Homo sapiens: one gene and its partners. The protein of the gene in region 1 purifies or fractionates together with the protein of each later gene. This does not show direct contact. Each region holds a gene or a part of one and is shown on either strand. Other genes may lie near its edges.

Region 1 (3,500 bases):
CCGCAGGCAGGGCTGCCCCGGGGGTGGTGTTCTTGGCCACTGCCCTGATGGCGCTGCCAAGAAGACAAACATGGGAGGGCGCTGGCAGCAGGTTCCCGGTGGCCTCAGTTCCCACATGGACACCTGCCAACCACAGAGGGAAAGTGCCCAAATCCTGCCTTGGAAGGGCCTGTGGCCTCGGAGAGCCAGCAGCACTGCGCGGTTCCTCTCACCTAAGGGAGACTCGCCCGGTAGAGAAGACTCGGAGCAGGAACTCCCCTGGCGCGTCCTTCAGGAAGGTGCTGGGGACAGCCAGGTAGTAGCCCGGTGAGAGCTCACAACGCAGGTGGACCTCCCGGTCGTATGCATGGCACGCGGTGCCAGCCACGGGGGGCATGGACAGGACCCTAGGCAGATTGACCCGCCGCTTCTCTACCTGTGAGCACGTGCAGGAGGCTCAGTGTGGAGGAGCGGCCGGGGTCAGACGCCCTGGCCTTGACCTCCCTGCTGCAAGCACAAGGGCCTCTGGAGTTGACAGATGAAAGCGCCAAGGCCTGTCAGCACCCTCCACCCTCTCTCAGGGACCAGCTAGAGATGCCCACCAATCCCGGGCTTCACTTGGCCCTGGCGCCAGTATCTGTCCCAGACACGAGCCTGCAAGTCCTCCTTGTAGCTGGGCCCACAAAGGCACCGTGGCCCAGGCAACCTGGGGGCTGCTGGACAGTGGGCCTTCCAGCAACTTCTTTTGCAAGAGGAAAGGAACATCATGTGGGCCACATCCATGAAGGGACAGGGAACAGTGTGGTGCCAAGTGTCACACCCTGTCAAGACACACAAGATGAAAACCCAGCCCCTGAGCGAGCAGCCGGCATATCCTCGACCCACACTCAGGCCCTTTGCCCTCAGGCGCCCCCATCTGTTCTTCCTGGAAACAACACACTTTGTGAACCAGTGGTTGAGCCTGGGACTGCCTGGGCCTCAGAGCAATCCCATGAGATCCGTGTCAGGACCCCGTCTTGCAGGGGAAGAGACTGAGGGAGGCAGGGAGAGGATGTGTGCCAGGTCACACAGCAAGCTGCAGAGCTGGGACTGGCCCTGACAGGTCCTCAGCCGCTGGCTCTACCTCCTTGCCTCAGAAAGGCACGGCGCTGCCAGGAGCCCCCCGGGTCCAGGCCCCTCCTGCGGGTCCTGCCCTGGCTGCAGACTCTGTTGCTTTCCTTTGGCCAATGAGGCACACGGCAAGGCAGAAAGACCTGCAGTCTCAGGTCAGAGCCGGGTCTGGGAGCACCAGCAGACGTCAACCCCGTGCAACAGCCCAAGGAGGGGGGAGACTGGTGGGGCCCGTGGCAGAGTCACATGTGTCCCGGCAGAGCCAGTCCTAGAACCCAGACCTCCATGGGCCTCCACACCACCTGCTGAACCGAGCGTGAGCCAGACGGGGCTGAGTTACCTTCCAGAGGTGCAGACCCACAGCCTGGTAGTGCTTGCCCGGGATGCTCGCTGGGCTCCACGAAGTATGACTGTCACCCACCAGTGCCCGGGCCCGGCCTGCCCAGTCCGCCGCGTGCAGCCTGGATCTCTGCAGGACGGCAATGTACACCTCACTCGGTTCTGAGACCCGCAGCCAGAATTTGGGGTTGCTGGGAAAGCCGCTGTTGTTCCGGCAGCCTCCTGCTGACTGGCCCTTGACCCAGGCCCCAGGCAGCGCCCGCGTATGGCAGAGCAGCCTCTCTAGTGAGAAAACACCAGGCATCAGCTGTGGGACACGGCTCCTCGCTGGCCTCCCGCCATGGTGGCCTCATGAACCCTGGCAGGGTCTAAGCAGCAGCTACGGCCACAGACAGAGCCAGCCCCTCCCACAAGCCCACCCTCCTCCCAGCTCCTGGGACAGAATCATCACCCTCCTCCCGGCTCCTGGGACAGAATCATCTCTCCACGCTGAAGAGAACCAAACTGGGCCTGGGCAGGGGGAACCCAGGCACCTGCCCAGCCTCCTCACTTCGGCAGGCAGAGCACGTGCCCAGCACAGCCCCTCGGGGCACTACCTGTGTAGAGGCTCTGCAGGTGGCCGGCCTCCGTGACCGGGTAGCCAACGGTGAGCTCGTCAAACTCCCTGAGGAACTCCTCCTCCTCCACCCAGAACTCCCCTTCCTGGAGCTGGGACAGGAGCTCAGATGCTACCGCTGCATCTACCTGGCTCCACCCTTCACCCCTGGAAGAAACCTCATCTCAGCAGAAGCCCCTCCCGAGAACTGGTAGTGTCAACTTGCCGGCAGGCTGGGGGGAAGCCTGGAGGGGACCCAGAGAGCCCTGAGTTCCTGCCAGCAACCCCGTGCCCCAGCTCTGCAGCCCCTCCCACACCCGAAGCAGCTCTGCAGCACAGGGCCTTCTGGGCAGCGGCCACCCTGGAGCCCTCTCTTTTCCCAGAGGAACTTCACGCCTCTGGATGCGTCTTCCCAGGACTGCTGCCCGAGCCCGTGATGATGTCTGCCCTATTGAAACCCCAGGCCCAATGGCCACCTTGGTCCCAGGCCTCACAAGGATTGCCTGGAGCCAAGACAAGCATGGTGTCACGAGAGCAGGGACTCAGGGGCCTTGCTGGAGACAGCCAAGTACAGTCCTGACAGCTGAAGGTGACCAGGACACAGGCCAGACTGGCACTGGGCCCCCCTCCCGACAGCAGCATGGTCCAGGCCCCAGCACTCACCCCTCTCTCCAGAGCCCCTGCCAGCACCGCCGGCCCCAGGGGTTCTGGATCCGCAGCAGCAGGATGCACTGGCCCGCCTGACCCTGGAGCTCCCGCAGGTCCGAGACAATGAAGGCATGGAACTCCCCCAGCTCCCGGGCACCTGCATGAGGAATGGCGCAGGCACAGGCAGGAAGGGCACCATGGAGTCCCAAACTGACAAGGACACACAGGCCTCTGCCTCCTCCTCTGGAGATGCTCCAGCCCACCCCACTATGGCTACACGGGAGACCCCAGATCCCCATGGACCACGAGAGCTCCTTTCTTAGCAGCTGTGACCCATCAGCTCAGGAGCATCTCCAGGAGCAAGCACACGGGGCCTGACTCGGCTGCCATCCGGGTCTGGTGCTGGGTAAGTCATCCCCTTCTCTAGGCCTCAGTCATCGTCCGTACCCATCTGTGCACGATGCCTGGCACAGCACCAGTTCTCAAACATGCTGCACAGATGCATCTGCAACTGCCAGAAATCTAGAGAGTGTTTCTCTTGGCAAAGCCTGCTAGAGGTAGGACATTCAGATAGTGCCCTGGCTAGAAGCCCACTGGAGGCATGGAGGCCCAGGGGGGCAACAGCTCCACCTGGCCAGAGACCTTGAGACAGATGGGCATAGAAAAGAAAGAGCCAAACAGAGAGGAAGGCCACATCTGTGGCGGGGCAACGGTCTAGAGAGGAGGGTCTCCTGGAAGGACTTCAGTCTCGCCCACGCCGCGGCCCCTTGCCACCTCAGCAGGCTCCAATGCACCTCCAGTCAGTGCCAGCTGCCATCTCTCTCTGCCT
Region 2 (3,500 bases), on another chromosome or scaffold:
TTCTCAATATAAATTCCTACATCTCTCCCTCAGGCCAGAGGACCCTTTGCCACCAGAGTGAGATCCTAGAGACCATCATCCTGGTAAATCCCAGTGCAGACAGCATCAGCTCTGAGGTAAGGCCAGGGCCTGTGCCTTGCCAAACAGGCCTGGTGCAAGTGCTATACCCACCCTTGCCAGTGCTACCACTATTAGGCCAAGAATTCCTCTCTCTGCCATCTAAGCTGACGTATTGTCTCCAGCCCACTCTGGAGGTGTTATGAGGGACATAAGTTGGGAGCATGTTCTTGAGGTACTGAGGGGCCATTCATTGCCTTTCCCTGGATTTCCTATATCTGTGACCACTCCCCTTCTTCCATTCCAGGTTCATCATCTTCTTAGCAGCTCATCAGCTTATAAACTACTAATCTTGAGTGGGCAAAGTTTAGAGCCTGGGGGAGACCTCATCCTACAGAGTGGCACCTACTCATATGAAAACTTTGCCCAGGTCCTTCACAACCCCGAGGTAAGTTCCATGCCAGAGTGTCTGGGAGAAAGGGTAGCACTAGAGCTGTGGGAGGGATCTAAGGGAAAGTCTCATATTGCATGACCATGGGGGGCCCTGGCAGAAAGGTAAGAGTCCACCTTGGAAAGAGGTGAAGATTAGGGTACTGAATCTAAGTCAGACCAAAACAACTCTAGTGACCTGATCAGGTTTCTATCTCCTATTCTTCTAGATTTCCCAATTGCTCAGCAATAGAGACCCTGGGATACAGGCCTTCCTTACCGTGTCCTGCTTAGGGGAAGGTGATTGGAGCCACCTGGGATTATCCAGTTCCCAAGAGACCCTGCACCTCCGGCTAAACCCTGAGCCCACTCTGCCCACCATGGACGGCGTGGCTGAGTTCTCCGAGTATGTCTCTGAGACTGTGGACGTGCCATCCCCATTTGACCTACTAGAGCCCCCCACCTCAGGGGGCTTCCTCAAGCTCTCCAAGCCTTGTTGCTACATCTTCCCAGGTGGTCGTGGGGACTCTGCCCTCTTTGCTGTCAATGGTTTCAACATCCTGGTGGATGGTGGCTCTGATCGCAAGTCCTGTTTTTGGAAGCTGGTACGGCACTTGGACCGCATTGACTCGGTGCTACTCACACACATTGGGGCAGACAACCTGCCAGGCATCAATGGACTACTGCAGCGCAAAGTGGCAGAGCTAGAGGAGGAGCAGTCCCAGGGCTCTAGCAGTTACAGCGACTGGGTGAAGAACCTTATCTCTCCTGAGCTTGGAGTTGTCTTTTTCAACGTGCCTGAGAAGCTGCGGCTTCCTGATGCCTCCCGGAAAGCCAAGCGTAGCATTGAGGAGGCCTGCCTCACTCTGCAGCACTTAAACCGCCTGGGCATCCAGGCTGAGCCTCTATATCGTGTGGTCAGCAATACCATTGAGCCACTGACCCTCTTCCACAAAATGGGTGTGGGCCGGCTGGACATGTATGTCCTCAACCCTGTCAAGGACAGCAAGGAGATGCAGTTCCTCATGCAAAAGTGGGCAGGCAATAGTAAAGCCAAGACAGGCATCGTGCTGCCCAATGGGAAGGAGGCTGAGATCTCCGTGCCCTACCTTACCTCTATCACTGCTCTGGTGGTCTGGCTACCAGCCAATCCCACTGAGAAGATTGTGCGTGTGCTTTTTCCAGGAAATGCTCCCCAAAACAAGATCTTGGAGGGCCTAGAAAAGCTTCGGCATCTGGACTTCCTGCGTTACCCTGTGGCCACGCAGAAGGACCTGGCTTCTGGGGCTGTGCCTACCAACCTCAAGCCCAGCAAAATCAAACAGCGGGCTGATAGCAAGGAGAGCCTCAAAGCCACTACCAAGACGGCCGTGAGCAAGTTGGCCAAACGGGAGGAGGTGGTAGAAGAGGGAGCCAAGGAGGCACGTTCAGAGCTGGCCAAGGAGTTAGCCAAGACAGAGAAGAAGGCAAAAGAGTCATCTGAGAAGCCCCCAGAGAAGCCTGCCAAGCCTGAGAGGGTGAAGACAGAGTCAAGTGAGGCACTGAAGGCAGAGAAGCGAAAGCTGATCAAAGACAAGGTAGGGAAAAAGCACCTTAAAGAAAAGATATCAAAGCTGGAAGAAAAAAAAGACAAGGAGAAAAAAGAGATCAAAAAGGAGAGGAAAGAGCTCAAGAAGGATGAAGGAAGGAAGGAGGAGAAGAAGGATGCCAAGAAGGAGGAGAAGAGGAAAGATACCAAACCTGAGCTCAAGAAGATTTCCAAGCCAGACCTAAAGCCCTTTACTCCTGAGGTACGTAAGACCCTCTATAAAGCCAAGGTCCCTGGAAGAGTCAAAATAGACAGGAGCCGTGCTATCCGTGGGGAGAAGGAGCTGTCTTCTGAGCCCCAGACACCCCCAGCCCAGAAGGGAACTGTACCACTCCCAACCATCAGTGGGCACAGGGAGCTGGTCCTATCCTCACCAGAGGACCTCACACAGGACTTTGAGGAGATGAAGCGTGAGGAGAGGGCTTTGCTGGCTGAACAAAGGGACACAGGACTAGGAGATAAGCCATTCCCTCTAGACACTGCAGAGGAGGGACCCCCAAGTACAGCTATCCAGGGAACACCACCCTCTGTTCCAGGGCTGGGACAAGAAGAACATGTGATGAAGGAGAAAGAGCTTGTCCCAGAGGTCCCTGAGGAACAAGGCAGCAAGGACAGAGGCCTAGACTCTGGGGCTGAAACAGAGGAAGAGAAAGATACCTGGGAGGAAAAGAAGCAGAGGGAAGCAGAGAGGCTCCCAGACAGAACAGAAGCCAGAGAGGAAAGTGAACCTGAAGTAAAGGAGGATGTGATAGAAAAGGCTGAGTTAGAAGAAATGGAGGAGGTACACCCTTCAGATGAGGAGGAAGAGGACGCGACAAAAGCTGAGGGTTTTTACCAAAAACATATGCAGGAACCCTTGAAGGTAACTCCAAGGAGCCGGGAGGCTTTTGGGGGTCGGGAATTGGGACTCCAGGGCAAGGCCCCTGAGAAGGAGACCTCGTTATTCCTAAGCAGCCTGACCACACCTGCAGGAGCCACTGAGCATGTCTCTTACATCCAGGATGAGACAATCCCTGGCTACTCAGAGACTGAGCAGACCATCTCAGATGAGGAGATCCATGATGAGCCGGAGGAGCGCCCAGCTCCACCCAGATTTCATACAAGTACATATGACCTGCCCGGGCCTGAAGGTGCTGGCCCATTCGAAGCCAGCCAACCTGCCGATAGTGCTGTTCCTGCTACCTCTGGCAAAGTCTATGGAACGCCAGAGACTGAACTCACCTACCCCACTAACATAGTGGCTGCCCCTTTGGCTGAAGAGGAACATGTGTCCTCGGCCACTTCAATCACTGAGTGTGACAAACTTTCTTCCTTTGCCACATCAGTGGCTGAGGACCAATCTGTGGCCTCACTTACAGCTCCCCAGACAGAGGAGACAGGCAAGAGCTCCCTGCTGCTTGACACAGTCACAAGCATCCCTTCCTCC
Region 3 (2,767 bases), on another chromosome or scaffold:
AAAAATAGAAAATCAGCACATACCTGTAGCTAGCAAGGAGAATGAATCAGTAACTTACGACCTCCCAACAAAGAAAAGCCCTGGGGAAGCCACTAAACATTTAGAGAACTAACATCAGCCTTTCTCAAACTTTTCCGAGGAACTGAAGAGGAAGGAACACTTCCTAACTCATTTTATAAGACCAGAATTGTCTTAATACCAAAGCCAGGCACAGATATTTAATTCTACAAGAAAATGCCAGTTCAACAGACTTTATGAACAATAATGTAAAAAATCAGGCCTGGGGGTGCAGTGGCTCACGCCTGTAATCCCAGCACTTTGGGAGGCTGAGGCAGGCAGATCACTTGAGGTCAGGAGTTCAAGACCAGCCTAGCCAACATGGCGAAACCCTGTCTCTTACTAAAAATACAAAAATTAGCTGGGCGTGGTGGCAGGTGCCTGTAATCCCAGCTACTCGGGAGGCAGAGGCAGGAGAACTGCTTGAACCCAGGAAGTGGAGGTTGCAGTGAGCTGAGATTGTGCCACTGCACTCCAGCCTGGGCGACAGAGTGAGACTCCATCTCAAAAAATAATAATAAACGAATTCAGCAAAGAAGCAAGGTACAAAGTCCACAGGCAAAACACAGTTGAATTTCTATACATGAACAATGAACAATGTGAAAAGGAGATTAAACAATCATGAAATAGAAGAATCAAGATAGAGGACTCACACTTCCAGATTTCAAAACTTACTACAAAGCTACAGTAATCAAAACAGCGTGGCACTGGCATAAAGACAGACATATAGACCAATGGAATACAATAGAGGCCCGGAAATAAATCATCACATGTATGCTGAAATGATCTTCAACAAGCGTTCCAAACATTCAATGGGGAAAGGATAGTCTTTTCAACAAATGGTGCTGGGAAAGCTGGGCTTCCACATGCAAGAGAATGACACTGGATCTTTTCACCACATACAAAAATTACCTCCAAATGGACCTAAATGTGAAATGGAAAACTTAAAACTCCTGGAAGAAAACATGGGGTAGAAGCTTCTCACTGTTGGATTTGACCAGGCATGGTGACTCACATCTATAATCTTAGTACTCTGGGAGGCCGAGGCGGGCAGATCACTTGAGGTCAGGAGTTTGAAACCAGCCTGGCCAACGTGGTGAAACCCCGTGTCTACTAAAAACACAAAAAAAATTAGCCAGGTGTGGTGGTGGGTGCCTGTAATCGCAGCTACTCAGGAAGGCTGAGGCAGGAGAATCGCTTGAACCCGGGAGGCGGAGGTTGCAGTGAGCCAAGATAGTGCTCCCATGCTGCAGCCTGGGCAACAGAGCCAGACTCATCTGAAAAAAAAAAAAAAGAAAAAGAAAAAAGAAAAAAAATCGATGTGGCAATCATTTATTGGGTCTGACATCAAAAGTGCAGACAACAAAAGAAAAAAATAGACAAAATGGACTTCATGAGAATTTAAAACTTTTGTGCATCAAAGGGCACTATCAAAAGAATAAAAAGGCAGCTCACAGAATGGGAGGAAATATTTGCAAGCCATTTATCTGCTAAAGGATTAATGTCCAGAATGATTTAAAAAACTCCTAAAACTCAGCAACGGAAAACAACTCAATTTAAAAATGGGCAAAGGGGGCTAGGTATGGTGGCTCATGCCTGTAATCCCAACAGTTTGGGAGGCCAAGGCGAGAGAATCGCTTGAGGCTGGGAGTTCAAGATCAGCCTGGGCAACATAGTGAGACTCCATCTCTACAAAACATTAAACAATTGGCCAGGCACGATGGCATGCACCTGTGTAGTCCCAGCTACTTGGGAGGCTGAGCTGGGAGGATCACTTGAGCCCAGGAAGTTGAGGCTATAATGAGCTGTGTTTGCACTACACTCCAGCATGGGTAACAGACCGAGACCCTGTCTCTAAAAAGTAAAACAAAATTTTAAAATGAGCAAAGGAATTGAATAGACATTTCTCCAAAGAAGACAGACAAATGGCCAATAGGCATATGAAAAGATGCAACATCACTAATCATTAGGGACATGGAAATCAAAACCACAATGAGATCCCACCTCACACCCATTAGACTGGCTAGCGTCAAGCAGCTGCTGTGGAAAACAGTCTGGCGGTTCATCCAAAATTAAACGTTGAGTCGGGCGTGGTGGCTTATGCCTATAATCCCAGCACTTTGGGAGGCCGAGGCCAAAGGATCACTTGAGTTCAGGAGTTCAAGACCAGCCAGGGCAACATAGTGAGACCCCAGTGCTACTGAAAAATTTTAAAATTAGCTGGGCGTAGGCTGGGCACAGTGGCTCACGTCTGTAATCCCAGTACTTTGGGAGGCCGAGGCGGGCAGATCACGAGGCCAGGAGTTCGAGACCGGCCTGACCAGCATGGTGAAACCCCATCTCTACTAAAAATACAAAAATTAGCTGGGCATGGTTGCGCATGCCTGTAATCTCAGCTACTTGGGAGGCTGAGGTAGGAGAATCGCTTGACCCCGGGAGGTAGAGGTTGCAGTGAGCTCAGATCGCACCACTGCACTCCAGCCTGGTGACAGAGCAAGACTCCATCTCAAAAAAAAATTAGCTGGCCGTTATGGTGCGTGTCTGTGGTCCCACCTGTTCGGGAGGTTGAGGTGGGAGGGTTGCTTGAACCCAGGAGGTCGAGGCTGCAGTGAGCCATGTTTGCGCCACTGCACTCCAGCCTGGATGACAGAGTGAGACTCTGTCTCAGAAAAAAAACAAAGAACAGCACAGCAGGCCAGAGACCCTCCTC
Region 4 (3,500 bases), on another chromosome or scaffold:
TTGCAGTCAAGCAGAATGTACCTCCTGCAGAGACAAATCTTCTGCATGAGATTACTGATGCTTCACTTGCACTCTAAGCTGGAATCCAAACTCTGGTTTGTCTCTTGAAAATTTGACTCTATAAAACTGATCTGATTTTCTGTTTTTAAAAATAAATATATTTTTGGAAAAAAAAAATATCTGGCTTCCCAAATAAAACTTTATAAGTGAATCTCATCTCTAGCTATCTCCTAGGATGAATGGAGATATAACAGTTGTCTTCAAGGGTGAAGAGAAACATTTTTACATAGGAATAACCTAATCGTATACCTTTGGTCGGAGCTCTAAAGAATTAGGAAGAATGTGAAAGACTGGCTGGCTTTGTGGGCTACTATCTCTCTCTAGCTTTTAGAGTTTGGTTTTTCAGAATATTTCCAATCATCTTGCACCTGCTCCATAAAAACATTCCCAAGTGCCACCCCATTTAAAATGTCATTATCATACCTGTACAGGTAATAACAATGTCCACTTGTCGGATGACCTCATTTAATTTCACCAGTCGAAATCCATCCATACTGTTGAAATAAAGCATGACCCATTAACCTAAACAGGCAGCTGGGGAGCCTTTTAACACAGGACTTCAAAAGCTAATATCAAGTTGCTGTCATTTCTTGAGATAGCTGAACTATTCTTAGAAGTGAAAAATCCAAACAATTTCCTTAGTTCATACAAGACAGAAATAAAAGGTTCGTTTGCATCACGGAACTTATTTCTTCCTGATAATAGGGAGCCAGGGGCTACCATGAGATTCCCTGACCAAATTTCTAGAAACTGTAGAAAGTGCCACTTAGCCATTTAACCAACTACCCCATTGAAACTGCTCTCTCCAAGATCATCAGTGATCCCCCGAAGGCCAAACCCAAGATTTCTTAGACTCTTAACTGTGTGTGTTTTTTTTTTTTTAGAGATGGGATCTCACTATGCTGCCCAGGCTGGAGTGCAGTAGCTAGTCACAGGCATAATCATAGTGCACTACAGCCTCTAACTCTTGGCCTCAAGCAATCCTCCTGCCTCAGCCTCCTGAGTAGCCAGGACTATTGGCATACACCACCATGCCCAACTTCTTAGACTCTTATATTATTTGATTTCTTCTACTACATTAAACATTATTTGCCTTCTTAAAACTCTATACCCCTTGGACTCCATGATACATCTCTCCTGGTTTTCCTCTTACTTCTCTTAATTGCCTCTCCTCAACTTCAGCCAACCTTTGGATATTGGTGCTCTGCAGGGTTATGCCTTTATTCTTTTCTCTATTCTTTCAGTATAGAGAACCATACTCTTCCTTTGGCTGCAAATGACTGCTGATAGATGGCTGATTTTTACATTTGTAACTTTAGCTTAGATCTCTCTGAAGCTTCATAGCCAAGGATCAAATTAGCCACTGGATAGCACCTCATCAATGTCCCAGAAGGATCTCAAACTTACTGTGTTTGAAAATAAACTTATTATTTTCTCTGCACCCATAATCTCATCTATTTCTTCTTCTATATTTTCTATCTTGATCAATAGCATCACTGTTCATCCAACTGAATGAGCCATATAAACAAGAATGTCCTTGCTGCCTCTCCTGAATTGAAGTTGTCACCAAATCTGGGTGACTCTTTTTCTTTAATTCCATAAACGTCTCTTTCATCTCTCTACTCTTCTCTAATACATACTGGCCTTGCTTAAGTTTAGGTCTTATTACTTCTTGCCTAGATTACTATAGTAACCCCTGGCCCAATCTCATTGCCTCTAGGTTTACATCTTTCTAAATCATTTGGCAGAGTGATTTTCCTAAATGCAATTTGGATCATGTCGCTTCCTTTCCTTAAAATACTTCAGTGAGACTGCCTGTTCTTAAGGATAAGACAGGATAAGAGTAAGACCCAAATACTTACAGTGATATGTGATTATATTGACATATGACTCCCATGACTCCTACCTTAGATAGTACCACTCCCCCAAATGTATTTCATCTGCCAACTACATTAAAATATTTCTAGCTTCTTAAATCTGCCATGCTATCTCCTTCCTTGGAGACAACACACATGTTCCCAGTACCTGGAATATACTTCCAAACTAAGAAAACACCTATACAAATGTCAAGACTCAGCTCTGCTGACATCTCTTTCTACCCTGCTCCCTTGCTCTTCAGTAAGCAATTTCTCCTTTATGCTCCTACAGAAGCATGTGCCGTTTAACTCCATGACAGCACTTACTTTGCTGCACAGTGGTTATCTGTCTGTGTGCTTCTAAAAGCAGGACCTTATCTCATTTATATATTCATCTTATTCATTCTCAGCACATAGCACAGTATCTAATGCATAGTAAGTGATCAATTCGTGTCTACAGGATAATCTGAACAGGATAATCTGAACTGTTCAGTATCTGAACAGTATCAATTTGTATTAAAATATGTTCAGGTTCCTAAACTCTTAGTGTACCAGAAGGATGATGGTTCCCCTAGGCTACAGACACTTGGACTCTGCAATAGTTTTTAAGAACAGTGGTATTTCCCACCCTGCTGAGGATGGCAAGAGACAATTTTAATAACAGCTATTATTTAATGAGCATATATTATGTGGCAGCAGCTCTGTACCTTATATAATTATGTATTTGTTATATAATGTATAATATAGAATAATAATTATTTTGAGACATGGTCTTGCTGGGTCACCCAGGCTGGAGCGTAGTGGCATAATCACAACTCACTGCAGCCTCCACCTCCCAGGCTTAGGTGATACTCATACTTCAGCCTCCCAAGTAGCTGGGACCACAGGCATGCACCACCACACCCAGCTAATTTAAAAAAATTATTTGTAGAGATGGGGTCTCCCTATGTTGCCAAGGCTGGTCTCGAACTCCTGGGCGCAAGCAATCCTCCTGCCTCAGCCTCCCAAAGTGCTGGGATTACAGGCATGAACCCATTACACCCAGCCTATGCTAATTATTATTTTACTGAACTCTCACAATCCTATGAGGTAGGTATGATTACACACATTTTATAGATAAGAAAAGTTTTAACTTTTAATTTTAGAATCATTTCAAACTTAAGAATTATAATACTAGTGTAAATAATTCTCATATATGCTTCACTCAGAGTTAGTAGATTTTACCCTTAACTGGGATTGGTCTAATGTTTCCTCACAATTAGATTCAGGTTATACATTTTTGGGAGGAATACCACAGAAGGGCTATTTTCAGTGTAACACATCAGAAGGCATCTGATGCCTGCCAATTTCTTTTCTGATCATTATTTGAAAGGCAAGTATCATACATGGAGAAGGTAAGGGGCTACCTGTTCTCTGGCTGACAGAATCCCTGTTACTATCTCCACAGGATTTCTAAATTTTCGCTTTTCTGATAGTCTCTGCTCTCTCCAAGCAGAGCTCCTTGACCTTTTTAAAAGACAGATGCTTAGAGTTAGTGGCAGCATCTCTGAGGATCTGGGCTCCTCTAAAATAAAGTGTGGCATC
Region 5 (3,500 bases), on another chromosome or scaffold:
CACTTAACCCCAGTTGCCTACATGGCTAATTTCCTCACTTCCTTCCACTTTTTTTCAACAGACATCTAGATGATGCCTACCCTGACCAACCCTTTAAGCTGTCATTCTCTCTCCACCCTCCTGTACTAGCATTCATGATCATTATTATAGCACTCTTTTTTCCATATAATTCATTACTTTTTCTAAAATGCTGAAGGAGTTTATTTATTAAAGTTATTATTTACTGCCTACCTTCTCCCACTACAACATAAGCTCCCAGGGGCAGATATTTTTGTCTGTTTTGTTCTGTGTGAAGCCCAAGAGGAAAACAAGCACTCAATAACTATTTCTTAAATGAATGAACATTTTTTAAGAAGCTCAAAAATAAACTAAAGGCATCCAAAATTTAAATATTAAAGTTACCCAAACCTCTACTCCTTTACCATAAGATCTGGGTAACTAAAGAATAACCTCTTTATTAAGCAGCTAATTTTCCTTCACTTTCTTACCTGTATTCAAATCTACGCCCACAAGTTGTTTTGACTCGACATGCTCAGCCTGAACTTTTACTAATGTTTCCTGTGGGTCATAACCAGCATTCTGAGCAAGAACCTTTAGGAATAAAAATAATAATATATATTATATATATATGCATAATACCTTCACATATATCAAATATAAAAATACTCTTTACTCTTGTAAAAACACATCCATAACATGGCAATCATCTCCTTTTGAAGAATTCCACTTTTAATCTAAATCAAATTATTATTTCATCTATCTAGTAGTTTTTATATTTACTTAAACATTTCCCCTATGCACGTCACACTAAATTCTGAGGACATCAGAGTTCCCCCATTTTTACCCTACTACATTAATTTCCCTCCTTGCAAAAGGTTTGTTTTGTTTTGTTTTGTTTTTAGTATGGAAGGAAGTAGAATGATATTCTTGTTTCCTCTAGTGCCGCTAGCCACATGCCCTCCAGTTCTTCATAGGCACTTGCTAAGGAAACCAGAATATTTGCAGCACCTTTGTGCCCCTCATCTTCATGAGGAGAGTCACGACCTGTGGTAACAGGGTTGGAGATACCTGCACTCCAAACCAGGCTCACTTCCAAGTGGCCCCAAATCACCAGCTGATGAGGAAAAAGGTACCACCAATGTAATGTGTACTGGGGTTACCAATTTCTGTCAGCAGCAGGATCATACTGACTTTGCTGCTCTGGGGAAAGAAAAAATAGCAAATCTAATTCACAAAGATTTCACAAATTATGAAAAATTTTAATAAAAATTAGCAAAGAGATTTTGCTAACATTGTTAATAATGTTTTAATTCATGGTAATAGCATCTTTGAAGTAGTTTTACTATATTTCTAAGGTGGTTTGAAACCAATTAAGGCAAAGACAAAGGAATGGTCGCTTTCTGTCCTTAGGTTGCCACATGGAAAAATTCTGTTTTCTCTTTTTCTAGGAATTATAATGATGATGACAAATGTAAGGTTGTATCTAGGAGTGCTAAAGAGCCTCAAGCCCTCCCTCTCCACAATTTAAATTGATTACATTTGGATACCACTAACAAAACAAAGATGTACCACAAAATCTAACTAAATTTTAAATTCTAAACTTTTTCATTATGATTAGTTAATCATGAGTCATTTCTGAAGGAAATTTTTGGAGCTGCTTTAATTTTTGGAACTCAGAGAAAGAAGCAAGGGGGTAAGTTGGCTATTTCATGAGATCGTGCAAGGATCCTGGGCTGTTATCGCAAAAGTTTCCCTGCTTTAGTTGTAAAATATCTAAGAGAAAACTGTGTAAGGAAATGCACATAAATACCTGTCTACTCCATTAACTATCAGATAATATGGGCAATTTGTAATTAAACACCTTTATGTCTAAGCAGTTGTTATTTGGCCGAAAGGGTAGTTGTACCTTGGGAATAATGAGTAAGGCATCAGCAAAAGCTTGGACTCCAAGACGAGCTCTTCCTTTTATACTGTTCTTATATGTAACAAGAGCTTCAGCCATTGCCACTTCAATTGCACCAGCTCCAGGAACCATACAACCTATTGGAGAGAAAAAATATGATTGGCAAGACATGCCATAAAGACCAAAAGAGAGAGAGAGACAGAAAAGCAATTCACTATTTAAGTATGTTCTATTATCTACAGAAACCAAATAAATTGCACAGCTTAGTAATTACTCAGTTATCTTATGAAACATCCTGAAGTTATATGTCATTAAATAAATAGGCATAGTACAGATAACTGGCTGCAAACAGCTTATTTTGCTCCTTACCCTCTGGTAAACAAGAATAATTTATTTTTACCTTCATCTTACTCTTTTATAACTACTTTTTTTTTCTGAGATGGAGTTTTACTCCATCACCCAGGCTGTACTGTAGTGGCATGATCTTGACTCACTCCAACCTCTGCCTTCCAGGTTCAAGTGATCCTCCTACCTCAGCCTTCTAAGTAGCTGGAATTACAGGCGTGCACCACCACACCCAGCTAATTTTTGTATTTTTAATAGAGATGGGGTTTCACCACGTTGGCCAGGCTGGTCTTGAACTCCTGACTTCAAGTGATCCACCCACCTCCGTCTCCCAAAATGCTGGGATTACAGGTGTGAGCCACCACACCCGGCCTTATGACTACTTTTAAGAGGTATTTATAATTTATATTGACAGGTAACTGATTACAATATCTGACATGAAAATTCTTTAGACCAAGATCATTTGTCTAGTTTTTGATAGGGAATTCTTGGAACTCAATGAAGTATTTGTTTTTTGTACTGCAGCAGAACTCAAACTGCTATCTAAGAAAAAATTTAAGTGGTATTATTCTAAAGCAAGAGTTTTGGTTAAACACATCAAATTTCACATCAGGATATCACTTTTATATCTGCTACTTGTATGGTTTCATAAAGTTTATGACTCTTATTTAAATCAGAAAACTTGCTTTAAAACAAAACAATACGAAAACAATCTCCCCTTTTATCTCACATCATTTTAAAATTACTACCCCCTTTCACTGCTTCACTTCACAACATAACCGCTCAAAGAGTTGTTTACCCACCAGATGATTACATCATTACCTCCCATTCACATTTTTTAAAAGTTCCTTGTTAAATACAGAATATACTCAAAAGAATATTTATATGTATGATATAAAGAATAAATGCACAAATAAACAAATGTATCCATGTACCTACCACCCAGCTTAAGAAAGAGATTACTAGAACCTTTGAAAACTTCCCTGATCCCATTCTCTGTGAAAACACAACATATCAAAATTTTAGCATCCCTAAAGCAGTACTTAAAGAGAAATTTATATCACGAAACACCTATATTAGGAACGAAGAAAGTTCTCAAACTAATGACCCCAGCTTCCACCTTAAGAAACTAGAAAAGGACAGGGTCTGGTGGCTCGCTCCTATAATCCCAGCACTTTGGGAGGCCAAGGCAGGTAGATCACTTGAGCCCGGAAATTCAAGACCAGCCTGGGCAACACAGTGAGACCCCATC
Region 6 (3,500 bases), on another chromosome or scaffold:
AAGTCAGTCCAAATATGAATGAACACAATGAGAACCACATGACTTGTACACACAAAAAAAGAAGTCTTACAAACAATCATAGTAAAAAAGCCAGAACAACCTACAGAGAAAAAATAAAAGCTTGTAGTTTTTACATTTTGAAATAATCATACTTTTTGGAAAACAGCACTTCCCTCATTTTTTTTGTGAGATGGTTTTAAAAGATACGGAGATATCGCAAGACAAAAATACAATAAAATAACAACAAGAGAAACAACCTTATACTGTACCTTTCCTTCAGCAAATCATATGCTGTCTGACAGTCTCTGGATTCCTTTTTTCTCAAAGCAAAGTTACTTAAAAACTGATTTTTCATGTGGCTTTGCAGGAAGTTAACTTTTAATAAACCATTTCTTGCTAAGCTTTTCTTAGCACATTTACTCAATTCCATACTTGAAAGCTACAATGCATTTCAATAACTGAAATGTATGGGATTTTATTCTAATATTAAACTCAAAAGGAAGAACTGAGACAGTCCTATGGGCATATTACTGCAGCCAAATGTGATTCACGAAGGCACTGATATTCTATAAAAGTGATTTCAAATATCAATGTATATACACGACTAATGGAATATGACCTAACCAGTCAAAATAGGCTGAATCTCATTCCTGATGTTATATCAATGCCAATAAAATTAGGAATCATATAACAAAAGCATATGGGCAGAAAATAGCTTTCTCTTATGTAAAATTCAAGTGATGGTCAAGAAATAAGATGTAATACAGTGTTTCTGATGGGTCAATGGCAAAGGTCTGGAGAAATATATTCCAGGTTTGGAGTCTTTATGGGCCAGAAACTGTCTCATAATTCCTAAATGTGACCAAATGGGAGGAATATAGGTTATTGCTCACAAGAAGAAGACGAGATGGGTCAGTATGAATACATCTCCAGCGCCAGAGGCATGGGTCAGATCATAGCCCCAGGAAGGTGGCTGGTTAGTGGGAACATCTTCACATATGACAAATTTTTGCATCCTTACCTTTAATTATTCTTTGATATTCTTTTTCATCTCTGAAAAAAAGGCTATTTTAACAGAAGTTTGTAATATCAGATTCTTTTACCCACACGAAGAAAGATAAGTGGTAATGCAATGGCGGGTGATAATGCAATTATGAAATGATGATGTATATTTCATTTTGAAATGCAGTATATGTTTCCTTTTTCTTTTGCAGGAAGACAGTTCTGGGATCCTAGGAGCATCCAATTTGTATTCAGAATTTCATTTGAGTAAGATTAACATTTAAATAGTTTGTAGTCCCTTGAGCTCAGAGTACAGTGAGATACACATACACACACTATACTATCTCTCTCTCTTTCTCTCTCTCTCTTTCTCAAGCCCTGGATATCAATTCAAAATTTGTGTGATCATTGATGTGTGTGTGTGTATATATATACACATACACAACCCTAGAACTTAAAAACTCATTAAGAATCCACAAAATAGATAACCCACACAGTGATAACCTAGAGTGACTTCCTAAACTGTGGCTGCTGGCTAACCTAGTTGATAATAACAAATACAAAGTATCCTTTTAGCAATAAGAGAGTCTTTTTGCTGCCTCAGACAAAGCTTTCTAGCTTGCTCCTTGTCCTTTGGAATTCTAGGCTGACCAACACTGAGCGGAAGCCTCACCTGGGACTTCAGGAGAGAATCTTGCAGAGTGTCGAGATACAAAAAGTTTGAGTTCTTGGTCCAAGTTGCATTCAATCAGGTTTGTGTCCCATGATCGGATTCCTAGGGAGGGAAAGAAAGACAGTTGAGAGACTTCCAGTTAGTCATTTCAGAGTGGTTTGGACAACATCACTGTAATATTTCTCAGGCTTTCAGGGAGGATGTGGGAACTCCTTTTCTGAAGAGCTTGGTGGCTTAGCAGTGGATGCCCACAAAATGGGAGGGCCAGGGAGGTCTCTCCACCAGGCCACAAGGGAGGGATAATTAGCAGTGTGGACTGAGCTTCTGCCCCTCATAAAAAGTAAATGCACCTCTTCTGGAAGAGTCAAAGAAAACAGTTGTTAGGAAAATGACAGGCTGTACTCCAGGGAGGGACTAGAAAGGGCAGGAAGATGTTAGTTCTTAAGAAGCTAAGAGGCCAACAGACTAACTCTAGCTTGTAGACAGACTAACTCCACTTGTAGGTGGCAAGAAAATGTAGAATAAAGGCAAAGAAAATACACGGGGGCTGCCATTCAAGCACGGGCCTTTGTTTCTAAAATGATGTTCTGGTAGTATACATGTGTAATTTCTTTCCTTTACCAATCCCGTTTTTGACTTTGGTTTATCGAGCCCTGGATATCAATCCAAGATTTATGTGATCTTTGATAAACAGAGTGGATCCACTCAATCTTCAAGACTTGGCCTGTCTGTCCTTCCAGGCACTTTTCTGTTACCTGAGTAGCTTGGCAGGCAGCTCTTTTATTCACAATTGTTCATTGTATTCAATTTTCTTATCCAGAGGCAAAGAAAAATGGCAACTTTTTATACTTTATAAAACATTTATGGAGTTGGGGACATGAATCAGCTATTCCTACCCTAGGCTGAACGGAAAGGAAGTCCTATCAGACTTCCTTTCCCTAGGCTGAAAGGAATATCCAGGGTGAGAGGAACAGGAGGGCAAGAGGCGGGATGAGGGCAGCTTCCTGTGCTCATGCCCTACTCTCTAGCCTCTTCCTTCCTCCTCCCACTGTCCTCTTTCTCCTGCCCTCCCAAAGGGGATGGCCCAGAGGGAACCCCAGAGAGCATCATAGAAGGGAGGTCTGGAGAGTAAGCCAGGGAAAGTTGGGGAACCCCAGAACTCTGGTGTGTGTGTGTGTTTTACATGTTTACATATTATATATTACATTTTTCCTAATAGGTTGCTCATGGTGGAGCCAGTGTGTGGTATCCATCATTGTACCTTTGTATACAGCATTCTCAATTGCCAGGAACAAATCTCTAGAACAACAGACATTTATTGCATACCTCCTAAAGGTAAGGGCTTGAACCTCTAGGTATAACACAGCAGGTGAACTATCTCTAAATTAACACCCAGTCATGTAATCATTTTTGTTGGACATTAGTCATGTATACAGACTTGAAGGAATAAATAGCAGTGTGTTACTTAAATACACACTGGATCCTTAAGGCATATTTGTATTTACCCTTGGTTATATTGTATTCAGTCTTCCTATCCTGTAAAGAATCAAGGTGGATTATACATAGACATTACAAAAAAAAAAGATTCTGGAAACTCAGTTCACTGCACATCTAAAATATCTTTAGATTACACACCACAGACCTTTTCAACCAGGAGGAATATTTTCAAATAGATGTGTGTCCACTAAATACAGGCAGAAATTTCTCATATGATCAATGGGAAGAATTCAGATGTGGAAGAGTTAACGTGCTTAAGGAAAGGTCAAATTATAAGGGAGAATTTTATGGCTCTTCCTGGAAACATTAATAGCCTCAGTTTGCATTT
Region 7 (3,500 bases), on another chromosome or scaffold:
CCACCTTTGGAGAAAGACAGGGAACTAATTCGTTATCTTGAAAACTTGTAAATAAAAGGAAAGAATCAAACATTTATCCTGTCTTTCCTTTATCAACAGTACCACTGGGTAACTAAACAGAAGATGAGGGGAAGTTACTTTTTATAAAAACATTCCAATTAATAAATGAAAGCAAAATGATGTATTTAGAATTTCATTATATTGCAACACCCACTAACCATCCACAGCCGCTAACATCACAAAAAAGAAAGACAATTAGACATTATGATATTCCCATGGTCTTGCCAAACCCCATCTATATATATATATATATCACAATGCCTAAGGGATCGAACTTGAGTCTGCTCCATCTCTGGATCCAGCTGCACGTTTGCAGAAAATACAGAAGACAAAGGAACATGTTGAACTGACCTATATTAAGCAATCAGCAAAATCCAACTCTGGGAAACTAGTACAAACAACCTGGGTTCTCCAACAGGAAAAGGAAAAGGATGGAGGACTAAACTAAAGATTAAAAGTGACAACTCATATCAAAACTGCTTTTTGGGCTGGGTGCTGTAGCTCATGCCTATAATCCCAACACTTGGGGAGGCCAAGGCAAGACCACTTGAGCCCAGGAGTTCAAGACCAGCCTAAGCAACATGGCAAGACCCCATGTCTACAAATACACAAATTACCTGGGCATGGTGGCCAATGCCTATAGTCCCAGCTCCTCAGAAGGCTGAGGCAGGAGGATCCCTTGAGCCCAGGAGGGTCAGGCTGTAGTGAGCTGAGATTGCACTACTGCACTCCAGCCTCAGTGACAGGGCAAGATCCTGTCTCAAAAAACAAACAAACAAACAAACAAACAAAACACAACCTAGAGACAGTGTTTCCCTCTTGTTGCCCAGGCTAGAGTGCAATGGTGCAATCTCAGCTCACTGCAACCTCCACCTCCTGGGTTCAAGGGATTCTCCTGCCTCAGCCTCCCGAGTAGCTGGGATTACAGGTGCCTGCCACCATGCCTAGCTAATTTTTGTATTTTTAGTAGAGATGGGGTTTTGCCATGTTGGTCAGGCTGGTCTTGATCTCCTGACCTCAGGTGATCTACCCACCTCGGCCTCCCACAGTGCTGGGATTACAGGTGTGAGCCACCGTGTCTGGCCAAAACTTACTATTTCTTAATCATCAAGACTAACCTACAGTATCTAGCAATGCACATTTGGGTTATTACTACACAAGTCAGGAAAATGATTACTTATAGGGAAAGGCCACTGTGATCTATTTCTCAACCTGAGGGGTGATTACAAAGGTATCTGCCTTATAATAATTCACCAAGCCATACATGTGTTCTGTACTAATGTTTTATTTTGCAATAAAAAGATTTTTTTTAAAATAGCAGGTTACCAGCACACCTGAACATGTCAACACCTAAAAACGGCTAGATATGTTTTCCATTCTCTACTCTAACTGAGTGAAAACAATAGGATAAAAATAGAAATCAGGCCGGGCATGGCGGCTCATGCCTTTAATCCCAGCACTTTGGGAAGCCGAGGTGGGTGGATCACCTGAGGTCAGTAGTTCGAGACCAGACAGGCCAATATGGTGAAACCCCATCTCTACTAAAAATACAAAAATTAGCTGGGTGTGGTGGCACACGCCCGTAGTCCCAGCGGCTTGGGAGGCTGAGGCAGGAGAATTGCTTGAACCTATAAGGCGGAGGTTGCAGTGAGCCAAGATTGCACCATTGCATTCCAGCCTGGGCGACAGAGCAAGACTCCATCTCAAAAAAAAAAAAAAAATAGAAATCAGTGTGCATCATTTCCTCCCTACCCACTTCCTCTTCTAAAGGAACCACTTAATATCACATTTTAGGCCAATCAGATTCACTTTCTTGGGATTATGAAATTCCAAGAAAGAGACTATAGATATCCAAACCTGTTCTCCCGGTCTTTCCTCATTCCCCAAGTTGTTTCAATTCAAAACATAGGAGCCAGGATTGATTCTTTTTTTCCCCTCATTCCCCACATCTAGTCTATCAGCAAGTCCTTCATTTATAACTCCAAAATATCGCAAATCTCTCAACTTCTATCTCCACTGACTCTACCATCTCAAATCACAAACTATTCAAATAGTTTCCTAACTTGTTTCTCTTTTATTCTTAACCCTCTACAATCTACTCTACCCAAAGCAGCCAAAAGGATGTTTTAAAAACATAAACTGCTTAAAAACCTTTAATGACAGCACACAGAGCTCTGACTTAAATCCAAATTCCTTTCCATGGCCGGCATCATTGAATCCGTGCCCATCTCTCTGAGCTCATCTCTAGCCACTGTCCTCTTCTCCAATCCAGGCACACTGGTGTCATTTCAATTCCTCCCACACATTAAGCTCTTTCCCACCTCCAGGCCTTCTCATAGCTTTCCCCCCTGCCTGGAATACTTTTCCCTTGCTACTCACATGGATAACTTCTCAATGTCAGGTTACAACTTAAATATCACCTTCTCAGAGAAGCCTCTGCCAACTGCCCTATTAAGCAGGTTTCACCATCTTTCTCTACACACTACTTATATCTTTCATAGCTCAAGCTACAACAAGAGTGTATGTTATATGAGGGCAAAGAACCCACCTGTTTCATTCACCAATGAGCATCTGGAATGTGGAAAACAATTAATAATTACTGAATGTATGAATAAATGAGGAAATGAATGAAGTAAAGGCCGAATGCCAATTTTGCCATGAGTAGTGATCAGTAAGTAAAGAAAGCCAGTTTTCAGAAAGAACAGAGCAACACAACAGAGAACAGGAGACTATGTGGCTTGGTTCCATAAACAGAGTCAAGAAAATTAGCTGCCAATTATAAATTATAAATGTGTGTGTGTGTGTGTGTGTGTGTGTGTGTGTGTATCAAGATAGCAGAAACATCTGAAAAATTTACTCAATTCACCTCTATACTAAGATGTCTGGTATTATATAAATCTATAAACTAATTCAGAACTCAAAATAATACTACCTAAACTAATTATCATTAATGTTAACACTTTGTAATTCTCATTTTGCTATGAGTCATTTTTCAAGATATACTCCTATGATGTACTTTCAGAAATTCAAGGTAATCTTCATGTCGATATTCACGGTATGTATGCAAACAATGAATTTTTTTTGTTGTTTTTTTGAGACGGAGTCTCTGTCGCCCAGGCTGGAGTTCGGTGGCGCAATCTCGGCTCACTGCAAGCTCCGCCTCCCAAGTTCACACGATTCTCCTGCCTCAGCCTCCCAAGTAGCTGGGACTACAGATGCCCGCCACCATGCCCGGCTAATTTTTTGTATTTTGTTTAGTAGAGACAGGGTTTCACCATGTTAGCCAGGATGGTCTCGATCTCCTGACCTCATGATCTGCCCACCTCAGCCTCCCAAAGTGCTGGGATTACAGGCGTGAGCCACCGTGCCCAGCCCAATGAACGTTTTTGAGACAGGGTCTTGCTCTGTTGCCCAGGATGGAATGCATCCACACAATCATG

Evidence for each region.
Region 2: the proteins of CAPN10 (region 1) and MAP1A purify together in Homo sapiens (affinity purification with mass spectrometry; one large-scale study listed by BioGRID and IntAct). This does not show direct contact.
Region 3: the proteins of CAPN10 (region 1) and MAP1S purify together in Homo sapiens (affinity purification with mass spectrometry; one large-scale study listed by BioGRID and IntAct). This does not show direct contact.
Region 4: the proteins of CAPN10 (region 1) and AHCYL2 purify together in Homo sapiens (affinity purification with mass spectrometry; one large-scale study listed by BioGRID and IntAct). This does not show direct contact.
Region 5: the proteins of CAPN10 (region 1) and CCT6B purify together in Homo sapiens (affinity purification with mass spectrometry; one large-scale study listed by BioGRID and IntAct). This does not show direct contact.
Region 6: the proteins of CAPN10 (region 1) and MAP1B purify together in Homo sapiens (affinity purification with mass spectrometry; one large-scale study listed by BioGRID and IntAct). This does not show direct contact.
Region 7: the proteins of CAPN10 (region 1) and STK3 purify together in Homo sapiens (affinity purification with mass spectrometry; one large-scale study listed by BioGRID and IntAct). This does not show direct contact.

The regions. Positions count from the first base shown.
Region 1 is NC_000002.12:240,593,234-240,596,733, reverse strand, and holds part of CAPN10 (calpain-10), read right to left. Parts: intron 2,829-3,500; coding exon 2,687-2,828; intron 2,192-2,686; coding exon 2,025-2,191; intron 1,711-2,024; coding exon 1,430-1,710; intron 416-1,429; coding exon 213-415; intron 54-212; coding exon 1-53.
Region 2 is NC_000015.10:43,520,608-43,524,107, forward strand, and holds part of MAP1A (microtubule-associated protein 1A), read left to right. Parts: intron 1-33; coding exon of another isoform or gene 34-116; intron 117-364; coding exon of another isoform or gene 365-505; intron 506-716; coding exon of another isoform or gene 717-866; coding exon 867-3,500. UniProt on the Homo sapiens protein: Structural protein involved in the filamentous cross-bridging between microtubules and other skeletal elements.
Region 3 is NC_000019.10:17,729,480-17,732,246, reverse strand, and holds part of MAP1S (microtubule-associated protein 1S), read right to left. Parts: intron 1-2,767. UniProt on the Homo sapiens protein: Microtubule-associated protein that mediates aggregation of mitochondria resulting in cell death and genomic destruction (MAGD). Plays a role in anchoring the microtubule organizing center to the centrosomes. Binds to DNA. Plays a role in apoptosis.
Region 4 is NC_000007.14:129,406,530-129,410,029, reverse strand, and holds part of AHCYL2 (adenosylhomocysteinase 3), read right to left. Parts: intron 555-3,500; coding exon 484-554; intron 173-483; exon of another isoform or gene 1-172. UniProt on the Homo sapiens protein: May regulate the electrogenic sodium/bicarbonate cotransporter SLC4A4 activity and Mg(2+)-sensitivity. On the contrary of its homolog AHCYL1, does not regulate ITPR1 sensitivity to inositol 1,4,5-trisphosphate.
Region 5 is NC_000017.11:34,930,461-34,933,960, forward strand, and holds part of CCT6B (T-complex protein 1 subunit zeta-2), read right to left. Parts: intron 2,041-3,500; coding exon 1,907-2,040; intron 592-1,906; coding exon 489-591; intron 1-488. UniProt on the Homo sapiens protein: Component of the chaperonin-containing T-complex (TRiC), a molecular chaperone complex that assists the folding of proteins upon ATP hydrolysis.
Region 6 is NC_000005.10:72,113,975-72,117,474, reverse strand, and holds part of MAP1B (microtubule-associated protein 1B), read right to left. Parts: intron 1,778-3,500; coding exon 1,676-1,777; intron 1-1,675. UniProt on the Homo sapiens protein: Facilitates tyrosination of alpha-tubulin in neuronal microtubules. Phosphorylated MAP1B is required for proper microtubule dynamics and plays a role in the cytoskeletal changes that accompany neuronal differentiation and neurite extension.
Region 7 is NC_000008.11:98,815,689-98,819,188, forward strand, and holds part of STK3 (serine/threonine-protein kinase 3), read right to left. Parts: intron 1-3,500. UniProt on the Homo sapiens protein: Stress-activated, pro-apoptotic kinase which, following caspase-cleavage, enters the nucleus and induces chromatin condensation followed by internucleosomal DNA fragmentation.